Linked DNA regions of Homo sapiens: region 1 is linked to region 2. The links come from fine-mapping of genetic effects on gene expression. Tissue or cell type: whole blood. Region 2 holds a variant in brackets; the other region holds the start of a gene. All regions are shown on one strand. Distances are from middle to middle.

Evidence for each region. PIP is the estimated chance that this variant, and not a neighbour inherited with it, causes the effect.
Region 1: DNHD1 starts here. The variant in region 2 is fine-mapped to the expression of DNHD1 in whole blood (INTERVAL, PIP above 0.99).

Annotation. Positions count from the first base shown.
Region 1 is chr11:6,492,883-6,500,972 of GRCh38, forward strand. DNHD1 (dynein heavy chain domain 1) reads left to right here and starts at 4,398. Exons shown (of 43, transcript NM_144666.3): 1 at 4,398-4,449; 2 at 4,703-4,785; 3 at 4,889-6,079. The coding sequence starts at 5,334.
Region 2 is chr11:6,524,080-6,532,183 of GRCh38, forward strand. It overlaps DNHD1 (dynein heavy chain domain 1), which reads left to right. Exons shown (of 43, transcript NM_144666.3): 11 at 4,443-4,708; 12 at 4,799-5,042. Among named protein-coding and RNA genes, the nearest start is that of DNHD1, 31 kb to the left of the region's middle. The variant G/A (reference allele first, on the strand shown) is at 4,278.

The DNA of each region.
Region 1 (8,090 bases), 31 kb before region 2:
TAAGGACTATTGTGACTCAGGTACCGTTCCTTGCCCTTTTATGAAAGAGTTGTCCATGCTCTTTATTCATGCCCTCACTGAATCCTTTGTCTTGTTCATCGTTATGTCAAAATTAATAACAACTAAACACTTAACAATTATATCAAATGTCTACTACTTACCAGGCTCTATTCTAAAGCATTTTGTGTGCATTAATTCACTTAATCCTCACAATACTATAAGGTAGACATTATTATCTTCATTTTCAAAAAGTGAAACTGAGGTAAAATATCCCATGACTAGTAAGTGATGAAGTTAGGATTTCAATCCAGGCAGTCTGATTCCAGAGCCCATCTTCTTACTCACAAATGAAGATTGTTATACATTTATGTATTTTTTTCCATGAATATTTTCTGATCATGTACTCATGGTGCCTAGTATAGGAGCTGGGGATAGAGTAGGCAGCAATCAGAATCTCTGCTACCATGGAGCTTATATTTCTAGTCAGGGGAAATAGGAAATAAATAAGTATTTATATGAAGTGGTAATAAGTGCTGTGGAGAGAAGTAATGCAAGTAAAGAGGATAAGGATGTTGGGGAGAGAGTTGCTATTTTCTGTTGGGCAGTTAGGGAAGAACTCACTAATAAGGTGACATTTGAGCAGAGAATTGAGAGAGTAAGCCTTGAGAGCATCTTGAAGAAGTGTTCACTCTTCTACTGTTCAACTAGTTGTGTAAACCACTAGTGGTCCTCTAGTATCCATTGTCTCCTTTCTTTATGTAAAGAACCTCTAAATTTTCTGTTGGCATATGACCACTGAAAATGAAGATTAGATTTTGTAGCTTTCCTTACAGCTAGGCTTGGTCATGTGATTGATGTGTGCAGTTGCCAGGCTGTGCCCTTAAAAGAAAGGGTATGCCTTCTCCTTTCCTTTTCCCTCCATCTCACTAGTTGGGATGGGACGTGGCACACATGGTGGTAAATTATTTTGGACCTTAAAGATGAGGACTACTTCCTTGGAGAAGGCAGAACAACTGAAGGCTACCGTGGTAGCCTCAGAGTACTTATATTTGGATGGTTATGTGAGAGAAAAAAATAAACTATCATGTTTAAGCCATGATATTTTGGGTCTTTTTATTACAGCATTTGTGTGGTAGGTAGAAGTTTTAGATCAGGGGTCCCCAACCCCCGGGCCACAGACTGGTACCAGTCATGGCCTGTTAGGAACCAGGCTACACAGCAGGAGGTGAGTGGTGGGTGAGCAGGTGAAGCTTCATCTGTATTTACAGCCACTCTCCATCGCTCACATTACTACCTGAGCTCTGCCTCTTGTCAGATCATTGGTGGCATTAGATTCTCATAGGAGCATGAACCCTATTGTGAATAGCACATGCTAGGTGGCATGCTCCTTATGAGAATCTAATGTCTGATGATCTGTCACTGTCTCCCATCACCCCCAGATCGGATTGTCTAGTTGCAGGAAAACAAGCTCAGGGCTCCCACTGATTCTACATTATGGTGAGTTGTATAATTATTATATATTACAATGTGATAGTAAAATAAGTAAAGCTCACAATAAATGTAATGCATTTGAATCATCCTGAAACCGTTAACCCCTCCCCTGGTCCGTGGAAAAATTGTCTTCCACTACACTGGTCCATGGTGCCAAAAAGGTTGGGGACCACTGTCTCTGAGATTTCCTGCTCTCTAGTATATATCTCCCTAGTATACGCTGCATATTCCATGGGACTGTGAATGTGACAAATTTTACTTATGTGAGAAGGTTATAATATATGGCATAGTTGACTGTAAGAGCGATTGTCTGGGTGGGCCTGATCTAGTCACATGAGTCACATGAGCCCTTTAAAAGCAGAGTGTTTTCTTTATGGTTGCAGAAGGGGACATCAGAAAAGTGTGAAGCATGAGAAGGGTTAGAGGCACTGTTGTTGGCTTGAAAATGGAGGAACCACATGTCAAGGAAGACAGGTGGCCTCTAGGACCTGAGAGTGGCTCCTGGCTAATGGCCATGAAGAAAACAGGGACATCAGTCTTAGAACTGCAAGAAACTGAATCTTGCCAACAACAATAATAGCTTGGAAGTGGATCCCCCCACACCCCCCACCCCCTAGAGCCACCAGATGAGTAGCCCCGTCAACATGTTGACTTCAGGCTTATGATACCCTGAGCAAAGAATCCAGTAAAGTCATGCTGGACATCTGATCTACAGAACTGTGAGGTACTACATAGGTGTTGTTTTTAAGCTGCTTAGTTTGTAATAACTTGTTATGCAGCTCCAGAAAACTTGCGCGTTAGTGGGGGTTCTCCAGAGAAACAGAACTGATAGGCTGAGAAGTCCCACAATCTGCTGTCTACAAACTAGAGAACCAGGAAATCTGGTGGTGGAATTCAATCCAAGTTTGAAGGCCTGAGAACCAGGAGCACTGATGTCCATGGACAGAAGATGAATGTCTCAGCTAAAACAGCAAGTCCACCAGCTGCCTGTTTAAATTCTGTTTAGGCAACAGATTGTACAATGCCCATCCACATTGGTGAGGATGATCTTTACTTAGTCTACCTATTCAAATACTAATCTCTTCCAGGAATACCCTCAAAGACACACCCAGAAATAATGCTTTACCAGCTATCTGAGCATCCCTTAGCTCCGTCAAATTGACAAATAAAATTAACCATCACAGCCGGGCATAATAGCTCGCGCCTGTAATCCCAGCACTTTAGGGGTGAGGTGGGAGGATTGCTAGAGGCCAGAGGCTCGAGACCAGCCTGGGCAACATAGTGAGACCCTGTCTCTACAAAAAAATAAATAAATAACAGTCATAACTTGTGTATCTCCTAACTGATACACAAGCAGACAGCACAGCTTGTATGTAGTCTGTGAGGTGGGGGTATGGCTGGTGTGATTCAGGCACAGCAGTAGTAGAGTGTGAATGTGAAGAGAGAAGCCTACAGAGGTAGCAGGCAGTTATCAGCAATTTGTAGGCCATGATAGGACTTTGGCCTTCAGCTGAAGGAATTAGATGAGGGGGCATTAGTGAGCTATGAGCAGAGGAGTTATAGGATCTGCCTATATTTGAAAAGGATCACTGGCTGCTCTAAAAAGAATGGATTGTAGGGGCAATGGTGAGAAGCATGAGAAGGATCTGAGGCAAGGAGAACAGTTCAAAGGCTGTGGAAAAACCCAGGTGAGAAATGATAGCAGCTTAGACCAAGGTTGTAGTACTTAAGATGGTGGGAAATAGTTGGATTCTGGATATATTCTGAAGGCACAACCAGCAGAATTTCCTGAAGGATTACTTATGGAGGGAGGGGGAGAGAGAGAAAGAGAAAGGGAAAAAGAAGAGGGAAAGAGAAAGAAGGGGTTTGGAAGAGGTCTCAAAGCTGACTCCAAGGTTTTGGTGTGAGAAACCAGAAAGAATGGATTTGCCATTGACTGAGGTGGGAAAGACAGTGAAAGGAGCAGCATTTCTTTGGTGGGGAAAGGGTGGTTAGGAGCCTGCTTTTGGACATTTTAAGTTTGAGATACCTATAAGCTCTCCAGGTGGAGACATTAAGTAGGCAGTTGGATATACTAATCTGATTTCAGAGGAGAGGTGGGCTGAATTTCTTTTTTTATTTTAATCATCAACTTTTTTTTTTTTTTTTTTTTTTTTGAGATAGAGTCTCCCTCTGTCGCCCAGGCTGGAGTGCAGTGGCGCGATCTCTGCTCACTGCAAGCTCCGCCTCCTGGGTTCACGCCATTCTCCTGCCTCAGCCTCCCCAGTAGCTGGGACTACAGGCGCCCACCGCCACGCTCGGCTAATTTTTTTGTATTTTTAGTAGAGACAGGGTTTCACCGTGTTAGCCAGGATGGTCTCGATCTCCTGACCTCGTGATCCACCCGCCTCGGCCTCTCAAAATGCTGGGATTACAGGCATGAGCCACCGCGCCCGGCCTCATTCAACTTAATTTTTAAAAATTAGCCCCTCCATAAGCCCTTCCCCAAAAAATCCCCCTCCCCCCGTGCCAAATAGATGTTGAGCTCCTTGAGATCAAGGATTTTGTTTTATTCGGGCTTCTTTTGGGGAGGTGGGATAGGGTAGATGGATACGTTGGGGGTGGGGATGGGGGAGTACCAAAGACATACCAAAGACCTGGCACTAGTTTAGATACTCAGCGAATGGATATAAACACCTGCTTACGACACCCTCTGGATTGCTAGTCTCCCGAGTCAACCGTACTGCACGTGCAGTTCAGACCCCGCCTGGTCCTCTACAGGTCCCTGTCCCAGGCAAGCCTTAGCCCACAGGTTGAACCTAGTTCTGCCCCTCCAGGCTTGGGCTCTGCCCTCTCGGCCCCGCCCATATCGGACCCTGGCCCCTCCTCTTTCTGGCTCCCCCGGATGCTCCTGGCAAAGACTCGGTCCTTCTGGAATCTTGTAACGGTTCTAACAGCTGGGTGCGGGTGGAGCTGCGGGTGAGTCCTCGGCTCCGGATCCATTTCTCTTTGTTCCCTAGGACCCCCTCCCACAGAGTCCGCCTCCTCTTCCCCGCTCTCCCAGCCCCCTCCTTTGCCTGTTAACGTCTTCCCCTACCTGCATCCTGACCATCATTTGCTGTGCCTGCTCCTCGGCTTTCTGTCTTCACGACCTCCTTAGGCTGTGGGCGAAGACGTCATGGGACTGGGGCTCTGCTGCCTTCGAGTGACGACCTGTTAACCCGTTTTTCAGGCGATCGCCAGCTCGAGTGCAGATTCCTTGCTGTGACCGAGGTTCAGAGTGAGCTCTGTCGGTGTGTCAGTTTGCCTCTTCAGGTGATTGCACGTCTGTGTGCGAGTCTCTCCGTGTATGGGTGGCTATGATTAGGGTGAGCCTCAGACTGGAACTCAAGTCTAAGTTCATTCACTGCTCCAGCAGGCACTCTTCAATGAAACCTCATCAGCAGATCGGGCTCTCTTCCCTTGCCTTGCCTCCTAACCCCCCTAGGCCAGGTGAGGGGGACAGGGTACTGGGAGGTAAGAAGGAACTCTTCTGCAAGGAGGGCTCTCACGTCTGTCTTAGGCCTGCTCCTTACCAGAGTCTTTGGGGAAGCAGTAGGGAGGGCCTGAGGGTCTCAGGAAAGGCTCTCTGCTGGTCTGGCTCTGCTCTGTAGCTCCATCTATTTCCCTGTCCCAGGTCCTTTCTTCCTCCTAACCCCATTGACTCTGACCATCCCCTGCCCAGAGCCTGAGGTCCCTTCTCTGGCCCCTCTGCTGGGCTGGCCCATGCAGGTGAGGCCCCGCATCTGGCATCCTGGAACTGGCAGTTGGAGCCTGAGCTATGGGCAAGGTCACTTCGACAGCAGTTGAATGCCCAGCTCCTCATGGTCCCGGAGGAGAGGAGGGTAGGTTTGTCTTCTGATGAGACATCATCTGATTCCCTTAAGTCTTGGCACTCCATATGTGTCTTGGACAGCAAAGAACAGCCCTTGGCCTGCCAGCAGAAACAGAGGCAGTTCGTGAAGCCAGTGACTGAGTCAGAGCAGCCCACAGTGCTGGAACTCCTGCTAGCTGAGCTCCGAACTCTGTTCTCAGCTGTGTTGCAGGACAGTAGCCCTGCAGCTTGGCGCTATCTTCATGCAGTACTGGGTCTACTGCCTCCATATCGTGAGTTGCTAGTTGGCCACCTTGATTTGCTGCCCTTCCTGGAGCAGCTGTACTGCTGGGCACCCTGGGTCCAAACCCACCTCCATCTGGACCTGCTAGGTGCCATTGTCCAGGCCTTTCCTCCAGACAGCTCTTTGTTAGACAGTGCTTCCCATGCTGACTGCTGTCCCCAGAAGCGGAGGCTCCATCACAGGCCCCCATGCCCAGCTTGCCCTTTTGTGCAGGCCCAGTGGAGCAGGCAGCAAGTAAAGGAGGAGCTGGCCACCTGGCTGCGACCATTGACACTGCCTGAGCTACAGCGCTGCCTGGGCATTGTTGGTGCTCAGGTGGCCCTAGAAGAGGCTGTGTGGCTGGATGGACTTAGTCTCCTTCCCTTGGCACTGGCAGCGGACATCCCTGTACGGTATGAAAGCAGTGACACTGACAATGCAGAGGTGGAGCCTGTTGGAAGAAAAGAGACCAGGTAAGTGAGGGACTCAGTCTAGGGCTTGAGCAGAGGAGAAAAAGTTGCTGTTTTATGGGTGCCTCTGGGGTCACTTGGAAGTTTAGATCCAGCTCTCTGTTTATCACAGGGATTAGCCCAACTCCACACAAAGCTAGTGTGAGGCTACTTTCCTCTTCCTTTTTCTCTGCAAAATAAACCCAGTGGTGTTAGTCTTAATCCCCATAGAGAAATACAGAAATTAATGAAAATCAGAAGTCAGCTATGAGGCAGCCAAAGCTTTAGAATAACAGCTTGACTTTTCAGTTTCCAGGTTTTTTTCTTAGATGATGTCAGAAGTCTCCTTAATTATTTTTCTATAATTCATTCATAATCACTGAACATTGCCTGGGCCTACTGTGAGTTGATTCCTGGATGTTGGGTCTTTCCCTCAAGGTACCCCTGGGGAATGTGTGTCCGAGTGTCCTTCCCACATGTCTATGTGACTTAAACCGGCTCCAAGGCAGAGTGGAGTTGGCAGCACTACTGGATAGAATTTCATTTTGACCCTTCCAGAGTCTTCTTCTTGCCCTGCCAGTGTGGGCACTCTGGCCCCTTGAGTGATATATTTTTCTTTTGTTTCTTTCTTTCTTTCTTTCCTTTTTTGAGATAGAGTCTCACTCTGTCGCCCAGGCTGGAGTGCAACGGCATGGTCTCGGTTCACCGCAACCTCCGCCTCCCGGGTTCAAGTGATTCTCCTGCCTCAGCCTCCTGAGTAGCTGGGACTACAGGCACGTGCCACCATACTCAGCTAATTTTTATATTTTTAGTAGAGACGGAGTTTCACTATGTTGGCCAGGCTGGTCTCGAATTCCTGACCTCATGATCCGCCCACCTCTGCCTCCCAAAGTGCTGGGATTACAGGCGTGAGTCACTGCGCCCGGCCCTATTGTTTTCTTTTTTAAAATATCTGGCTATCAGAGCTCTCTACAGGATTTCAGAATGCTTACAGAGACCTTCTCTTCTCAGCGTTCTCTAACTTTCGATTTTTTTTTTTTTTTCTGAAACAGAGTCTCACTCTGTCGCCCAGGCTAGAGTGCAGTGGCCTGACCTTGGCTCACTGCAACCTCTGCCTCACAGGTTCAAGCGATTCTTTTGCCTCAGCCTCCCGAGTAGCTGGGATTACAGGCTCATGCCACCACGCTCAGCTGATTTTTGTATTTTCAGTAGAGACAGTGTTTCGCCATGTTGACCAGGCTAGGTTTCCAACTCCTGGTCTCAAGTGATCTGCTCACCTCGGCCTCCCAAAATGCTGGGATTACAGGCATAAGCCACCGTGCCCAAGAGAGTTTTTTAACTTTAGTTTTGGAATTCTCCTTGTCCTCTGGCCTCATTTTCTAGACAATGCTTTGCAGCTGTCTGTGGCACATTTACTGTTCGGGAAGAAGGCTAGTTTTACCTTTAATTAAGGTTGGCTTCCTCAGTTTTTGCTGTAAGTTTATGGCTGGGTCAAGTCTTTCCATTAAAGCCTAATGTTAGATAGATAGGCAGGCTCCTGGGGCCCTAATGGGAGGTGGCCAATGCCATAAATTTATGGTGGCCCTATTGGAATCTTTTCCTTTTTCAAAGAGCTGCCCTGTGCCTTGAGTACAAGTTTCCTTTCCTGGGAGAACTTGACTGAATTGGCATGGGCTGAGATGTTGGGAAGGGATCAAGTTCTTTGCCCTCCCTTTGAACCTGGCAGTAAACCTCTGAGGTCTAGCTAATATGGCTTAATTTGCATTACGTTCTCCCGGAGTGGTTTGCCAGGCATTCATTCATTCAATAAGTGTTGGATAGCTACATTTATTAGGATCTGCAAGATGCTAGGGATACAGAAGTGAATGAGACAGACTCAATCCCTTCACTTGAGGTATTACAGTTTAGTTAGGGAGATATAGTTAAGTTGATAACAAGTAAAATATAATTACAAATTGTAATAAGTGCTATAAAACAAAAGAATACTGTCTTTTGCCTGGCTGCTTCTCTGCAGGTGGGAGAGAGAGAGAGAGGG
Region 2 (8,104 bases):
TTCTTTTACCAAATTCCATTAAAAATAGACTAGCTTTTCTTTCCATTGCTTGGAATCACAATTGACTTTGTATAGCACCATATTGCCTGAGCACTCTCATAGGTCTTGGCACCTAGAATCACTGCTCTTCAAGCTTGTCTTATATTTTGGAGCTCACAAAACAGACAATTACTAACTTCAAAGGTAGAGAAGAAGTAACAGCACCCATCTTCACAGAATTTGAAAGTAGAATATCAGGAAGAGAACCCCTGTCTCTCAAATTTCTGCTTATCCCTTTTTTCATCTCTTCTCTCTGTGTATCTTTCCAGTTCCTCTGCCCTGATTCCTGAGTCCAGTTATCTCTCCTTCCTTTGGACTTTCTGTTCCCTTATAACTACTTCTTTCAAATAACTTAAACTTTTTATGACACCGACTCCATCCTTGACTTTATATGATATTTGAGTTTTCCTGTCCGTGAGACTGATTTAGTTCAAACTTCAAGACAAGGAGTATGATTGATTCAGCTTCTCCTGTAGATTGCATGCTTTATTCATAAGCTATGGCAAGGGGATGTGTCATGGTGCAAAATAACTGGCTTTTAGCTATAGGCAAGGGTAGATCCTCTTAGAAGGCTGTGTATGGTGGGGGAGGTTGCAGTCTTCAGCTATGCTTGTGTTTGGCTATAAACGTCTATTATATGGGCCTGAGTATGGGGGTTGATTTTGGATTAAGTAATCTTAACTCAAAACTACGTACGCACCTATAACTAAAAAATTCATGATGCAGCTAGATTCAGCTGCAGTGGCCTAAACAAAATAAAACAAAACAAAACAAGAAGTCTTGAAGTAGGTGCTTCCAGAGTTTGTTCTGTGGCTCAAAAGTGGTCATCAAGTACCAGGTTCTTTGTATCTTTCCATCACTCTTTCCTGCTTTTAGCTATATTTAAGAGCAGATTCTGTAAGAGAGTTATGTGTGGCGGAGGAGGCCACAATAAAGTGGTTTTCATTTTTTTTGTTTTTTCATTCTCAGGCTTGTTGCCTCATAGTTGCAAGACAAGCTGCAATGTCAAGCATCCCATTCTCAAGCAAAATCAGGCAGAAAAGGAGAGGCAAGGTTAACAAGAGAGCTCTGTGTCTGACTCTCACTTTTTGCCAGGAAAAGGAATCTTTTCCGGAAACTCCCCATCAGACTCACTTTTACATCTCACCATCAAAATCTGCGTCATCTGTCTACCTCTAGCTGTAAGATAGGCTAGGAAATCAAATGGCTGACGTTCTCAGTGTCTCATGGGAGATGGTTCTACAACAATAGAGGAAGGGAGAAGGGAATAGCTATTGAGTAATCAACCAATGTACCTTCAGAGTTCCATTCTTCAGGTAGGCTCTGTCCACCTGGCAAGCAAGATAATCACCAGCATTCTCTACATCGTCATTTCATACTATACTCTTTCCCTTCTATCCCTCACTTAATCTTAGTTCTGTAAGTAACAATATCTTTAAGCCCACTAGCAGCCCTTGTGTTGATGTCTTTCTAGTAATTTTGTTTGTCTGAAGGTCACTTTTTACTAAATTCCTCAGGAAGGGCTTGTAGGGACAAAATTCTGAAGTTCTTCTATGTTGATAACAATTTGTACCTTTTGAAAGTTAGTGTTGCTGGATATAAAGTTGTTGGTTTATACTTTTTTCCTTTGTGTATCTTAAATATGTTACTATGTTTTCTTAGGACATTATGAGTTGCTATCAAAAAGCCTTCGATAGTCTAATTTTATTTGCTTTACAAAATCACTTGTTCTTTTTGCCTAGATTTTTTTTCTTTTTTATTGAAATCTAGTTATTTTTGTTAGAATATGTGTTGGTATTGAACATTCTGGGGAAGGATTGTCAGGTATGTTCTTTCAAAATGTGGCTTTATATCTTTTTTTAAATTTCAGAACAATTTTTCTGAATTACGGTTTTTAATATTTGTTCTCTTCCCTTGCTTTGTTTTTTTCTTGGGGGAATCTTGTTACTGATACATTAGATCCTTATCACCCATCCCCAATATTTTTCCCTTTCTCTTGAAATCTTTAAAATTGTTTATTTCCTTTTTAGTTGTATAATTACCCTTATTTTGCCTTCTATTTTTCTTGAGAAATTATCTGTCGAGTTTGTTTGCTCTTATGTCCCATTTTAGTTAAATTTCCATTATGAAATTGTTTTTTCTTTCATTTATAATTCTTTCCATAGTTCTGTCACATAATTTCTGAGTTTTTCTAATTCTGATATGTGTCCTCTCATGACTTCTATCATTTTTCTATTGTCTTTTAGCTTGTTTTGAAATAGGCTATAGTTTTGCTCTGGTTTTTGACATGCTTTCATTGTCTCTGGGGATTTATTCTATGCCTCGCTTTGTTTTTTTCTTATAAAAGCTTGGTATGGGGTTTGATGCTGATACTTTTCTACTGCTCATAGAAAACTGGAAATTTTAGCTTTTCTTAACTTTCAAAAGAAGACTTGGTTCAAAATAGTTCTCTAACCTCTAAGTTTCACTTTCTATTGTTTTTCTGTATTAAAAAAAGATGGCTTACTTTCTGAGGTTTTCTGGTTTCCCTCCCCTACCTTCATCTAGACTTTTCCTTTTTCTCTATTGCTGCTCAATCCTTATTCTACTCCCAGCATTTTCTCCATGACGAGCTCTGTCCCAAAAGGGAGCCCTGACTGTTTGGTTTCAAGAGTACACAGGGCATAGATTACTTAAGCTTCTATAGACCTTACCTCACCTGTTCTTGGAGGGGGTAAGACCCCCTTCCAGTTTTACCTGCTGTTCTGAAATGGGCCCTCTGCCTCCCAGTAAATGCTTGATGACTGTTTGGGGGTTTTCTTATTCTTAGGTCCATCTGTTGCTTCATTGTTTCCCTCTGCATCATTCATCACAAATGGTGATGCCATGTGTGTTTTGAGGTTGCAGATGGTTTGACCCCACCTACTTGTATTTTAGGATCTGTGAGGATCCCTTGCCCTCATTTGTTAAAAAATGCTATCCTTGTGTTTTTGGTTTTATTATCTAATTGTTCTGTCATTTTTACGTGGGCATTTGGGGGAGATTTCAAAATGATGCTGCCATTGCCATCATCTTCTCAGAATCCCTTCTGGCATTTTTTTTAAAGGATGATTCTTTTTCTTATATGGAGCAGAGACTGTAAAGTATAGGAGGCAAGGGCCAATGCAGGTAGAAAAGTTAGAAGGCTTTTGCAATAATGCAGTAAGAGATGATGGTGACTTGGGCTGGGGGAGGAGGGCAGGTGGTGGTCAATGTGGTGAGAATTGGTGGATTCTGGATATATTTTTAAAGTAACGACAACAGGATTTTTAAATGGGATGTGTTGTATGTGAAAAAGAGTCAAAGGTGACTATAAAGATTTTGACTGGAGAAACTGGAAGAACAGAGTTTCCATTTACTGAAGTTGGAAGACTGCAGTTTTGGCGGGGAGGAATTAGAGTTCATTTTGGCTCTGTTAAATTTGAGGTGCATGTTAGACATCCAGATAGAGAAGTGAATTAGGCAGTTCTTTAAATGGGATTGGAGTTAAGTGAGAGATCTGGGCTACAGATAAATCTGGGAGCAAATATATGGTACTTACAGCCATAAAGCTGGATGAGATTTCCTAGAGAGTGAGTACAGTTGGAGAAGAGAAGAGATCAGCTAGGAGTACTACAGGGTTTGGGTGTGGATAGTATGGCTCTTATTCTGAACATTTTAATTCTTTCCTTTATTTTGTGCGAAGTTTTAACACAAATACTAAACTTGTCAATTAACCAGTTCCTAAAGAGTTAATGAGTGGCTAGGTTCAAGAATATTCTCTAAGACAGATAACTGAGGACTGGCATGTTCAATATTCATTCCCAGCAACTCCTCTGTTCTGCAGATGCCAGAGACTACAAACTACACTTCCCAGACTCGCCTGCAGCTAGGTGTCATATACAATTTAGGATCCACCAGTTAGATCTACAAAAGACTTTGATTCAGAATTGAATTAAGAGGGGGAAAGAGTCAGGGCGTATGCCATCCGTTCTGTGGATCATAGCAGAGGCAGTGTGTTCTGTAGTTGATGGTGTGACAGTGATATCCCATTTTGCCAGGCAGAACACAGCCCTAGATGCTCAACCTTGAGTGGTTTTGTATTTTAGCTCTCCTATTATTCTGCAACCCATTTAATATTCTGTAATAAGTCCCTCCCTGCTTAGACTAGCTAGAGTAAATTATGTTATTTGCACATGAACCCTAACTAATAAATCCCCTCCATGGGTCTAGTATTTTAC[G/A]TTTGTGATATAGATGTATGTGTTAACTCACTCATGAGCAGCGAATGGGTGTGTGTGTGTGTGTGTGTGTGTGTGTGTGTACACACACTGAGGGCAAGGAGAAAGGAAGATTGTTTGTGGGCTCTGGAGGGTACTCACGGACAATTATGGCCTGTGCTCCACTAGAAGAAGATGAAGAGGAGGACTCAAAAGACGAATTTCTGATGCCCAAGTTCCAGGGCCAGCCCAGCGATGCTGTGAGCATCTTCTGTGGCCCGAATGTGGGATTGGTGTGGCCCTGGAAGTCTCACCCAATTGCTGGTATCTTGGAGGTCCGTGGATGTCGGCTGCGGGGCCAATACTTCCCCCACAATTATAAGCAGCTGGAGGAAGACCTGGACAACAACCCTAAGATCCAGCAGGCACTGAATATACAACAGGTGCTGCTGGAGGTGAGAACAGTGGTTTAAGGGATAGGGCGCTGCCCACCAATTCCCATTATAGCCGCATGCCTCTGCCCTAAACACCTTGTCTGCCCTTAGGGCGTGCTGTGCAAGGTGCAGGAATTCTGCAGGGAACATCATTGGATAACAGGCATTTATGAATTCCTGCAATCCTGGGGGCCTCAGAAGCTGGAAGACATGAGAGGTGGTCCCATCAAGAACTACGTGACGCTGGTGAGCCGCCTGAATGTTTGGCAGGCCCGTGTCTCCAGTATGCCTATCGAGTTGCTCACAAAAGGCGGGTTGCTGCTACTTAGCTGCCATGATGTACAGGCAGAGATGGGTGAGTACTGCTTCTCTTCCCTCTCCTCCTTCCCTTTTCTGTATGTCTATTCACATGGCCTGCCTTGGTCCTGGAATGTCCTCCGGAGACCTTCGGTGCAGGCCTCTTATTGGACCTATGAAGCCTTCCAAAGCCCGAGGTCCCAGGCCCTTTCCTTTGCCATCAAAGCTATGCTCACTGCAAAGGCCGGCCTCTCTGTTTTGGCTCTGCTCATACCCTGTATTCCTTAGGAATCATGTTCCTGTGCTTGGGCTACTAAGCTCAGTGTCTTTACAGAGATTCTTGGGAATCTAGGGTGCTTTCTCTCTGCATGTAGCTGAGTGAAATTTATACTACGATTTGCATATGTAAAAAGCTACTCTCTAACTGAGCTTGTCTTACTCTGTAGTCCTAACTTCTACTGGTAGTGAAAGAATGTAACCTTTCCAATTAAAGAAAGCTCCTTTCATTTAAAGCAGTCACTTTTGGTCTGATTCAGTCTATTTGGGATATCTGGGCAATTGAAAATTTATACTGTAGTTCTGGGTTGTTTTTACTTTCAAATGTCTTTTCCTCCCTTTTCCTTCCCAAGGTGCCACCTGTACTGGGGAAGGCCGGTGGGCTGGCTTCTGAGGTGTGATACATCCTTGCCTGGTCTCTGCCCTCCTGACATTGCTGCTTCTGGTGCTGCTGTGTCCTGGGCTGGTAGAGCTGCGATGTGTTTTCTTGGACTAATAGGGACCTGGAGTGTCTGTCTTTGCTGACCTGTCCTTGTCTTAACATTTGCTGGCATAGCTGATCCTTGGGGTTTTAGTGAATCCTTCATCCAGTCTCTGTCTTAGGCTGGCTACCCCCATGGCTTTTGCTTCAGGGTCCCTAGCCCCTCAACACAGGAACTTCATCTAGGCCACTGGCTATCAATTCTCTGCTATCATCTATATCCCCTGCCATTTGGGAGTTGTGGGAAACTGGTAAGCATTATATCCGCCCCTCTTTTTACTACAACACATAACAGTATGATTTCTACTCTGCTGTGACTGTTTCATGTTAGCAAGGGACACCCTAAAAGGTGGTCTTTCCCAAAGTTCTATGTGGAAAGTGGGGCTCAAGACCATTCTACTACCTATTTTCTCCTCAACCCATCTCAGGTTCCCTCCTCTTGCCACTTCTACCCCTGCTAATTGAACGCCCAATTGTTGCTATCCCTGGGTCTCTGAGAAATCTGGCTTATGACCTAGTCTTTTACCCTCTTTTCTTTCTTCCTTCCCATGGGAAGGATATCTCATGCTATTGTGTACTAGCTAGTGCCTCAGCCTAGGAGTTCGCCACAGAGAGGCTCACAGCGGGGTAGATTTGGAAGCCAGTGATTTGTTCTTTTAGGAAATATGGAGGTTGTTCTCTTTCCTCACCTAGCCTCAAGGATGGCAATAGCCAATAGTATCTACTTCCTGTGAAGACTAGATCCTGTTGGACCCGTGGCTTCCCAGGCCTGCTTTCTTTATGAAGGTTAGAAGCCACTGGGGCCTGGAAAGAGTTTGCTTGTATGCCCTGCTTGCTTCGCCTTCCCTGTCTTGGCTCTCAACAGATGAAAGCACATGTATCATTAGGTATCCAGTGGGCCACTAAAACTCCCTCCTCTTGTACAGGGGGTTCAGGCGGGCAAGGCAGGAACCGGGAGGACGTTTGATTGTTTTGTCTTCTCTCTGGCCGTGTTTTGGTCAGGCTTTACTTCACTGCTGCTGAGAAAGCTTATTGTTGTTCTAGTTTGTTAGCTTCCTGATCCTCAATCCAGGACCAACTAGTCTCTTTAAGAGGAGCAGGTGGAGAGAAATGAGCACTGGATTTAGAACCCTGTCTGTTTTTCACTTGCTTTGTAACTTCAGATTACTGTGTTTTAGTTTCTTTATTTGTAAGCTGGGCATGATAACACAGTCACTCACAGGGTTATAGTAAGGATGACTAAGATATTATTTGCAATACTCTTAGCATTGAGTGTGGCATGCAGTAGGTGCTTAATATTTTTTTCATTTCACCTTATCCCCTTGTATCTACTCTCATCCTTCTTGCTGATCTAATTTTATCTAACCCTCTGACTTAACTCTGTCGTTTCTCTTCTTCCTGAACTCCCTTGAACAACAAATGGCGTAATTATACACTCTGACGAATTAGCTTCACCAGAAACTTGGGGTCACCCTTTACTCCTCCCTCTCCTTGACCTTACTACATCCAACCTGTCTCCAAATCCTTGTCATTCTTCTGCCCCCTAAGTATCTCTTAAATCTGTTTTTATCCATCTCCAGCTTCTAATCCCAAGGAGTCCTGGTATTTTATCAATGCATTGCTCCTTTATACCATACGGTGTCACTGTTGAGCTCCCATCTGCCTTCATCTGCCTGTTGCTACTGGTCCAAAAGCAGCACCATAAACAAACAAACAAACAAACAAGCAAACAAATGTGGCAGCATTGCAATGGCCTAGTTACTGTTATGTTCCAAAGGGACAGTGTGAAAAAGGATGAGTTTAGATCTTCATGTTCTGTTTGATATAGGTTGTCCCTCAATAGGCTTCCTCTCAGCAGGTTTTCTTATTATCAGGTCTTAGTACCCAGTCATCTTGGTTACTTCCTCCAAGTCTCTGAAAGTGACATACCCAGTATGTCTCAATTATCTGTCCCCCAAACTCACTATTTTACTTACTAGTTGCAGAGATGCTAATAGAGGATCGGTCAGTTTACTTTGCACATAACATAAAAAATATTTTTAAATACTTTTTATAAACATATATTTTTATGTTTACATTTATATTTATAACATAAACATGTTTATATTTAAAATATAATGAAGTGGAGCCATGCTGCCTGAGTCTGAATCCTTGCTCTGCCACTGTGTGATGTTGATCAAGTGACATAACCTCTCTGAGCTTCAGTTTGCTTATCTGTAAAATAATAGTATTTACTTCAAAGGGAATTTGTGAGGATAAAATATAATTAAAGTACTTGAAATAGTGTCTGGTATGTAGAAAGCACTCTATACTCTATTTGGTGTACCATATTTCTATATTGTATTTTTCCTATTCTGTGCATA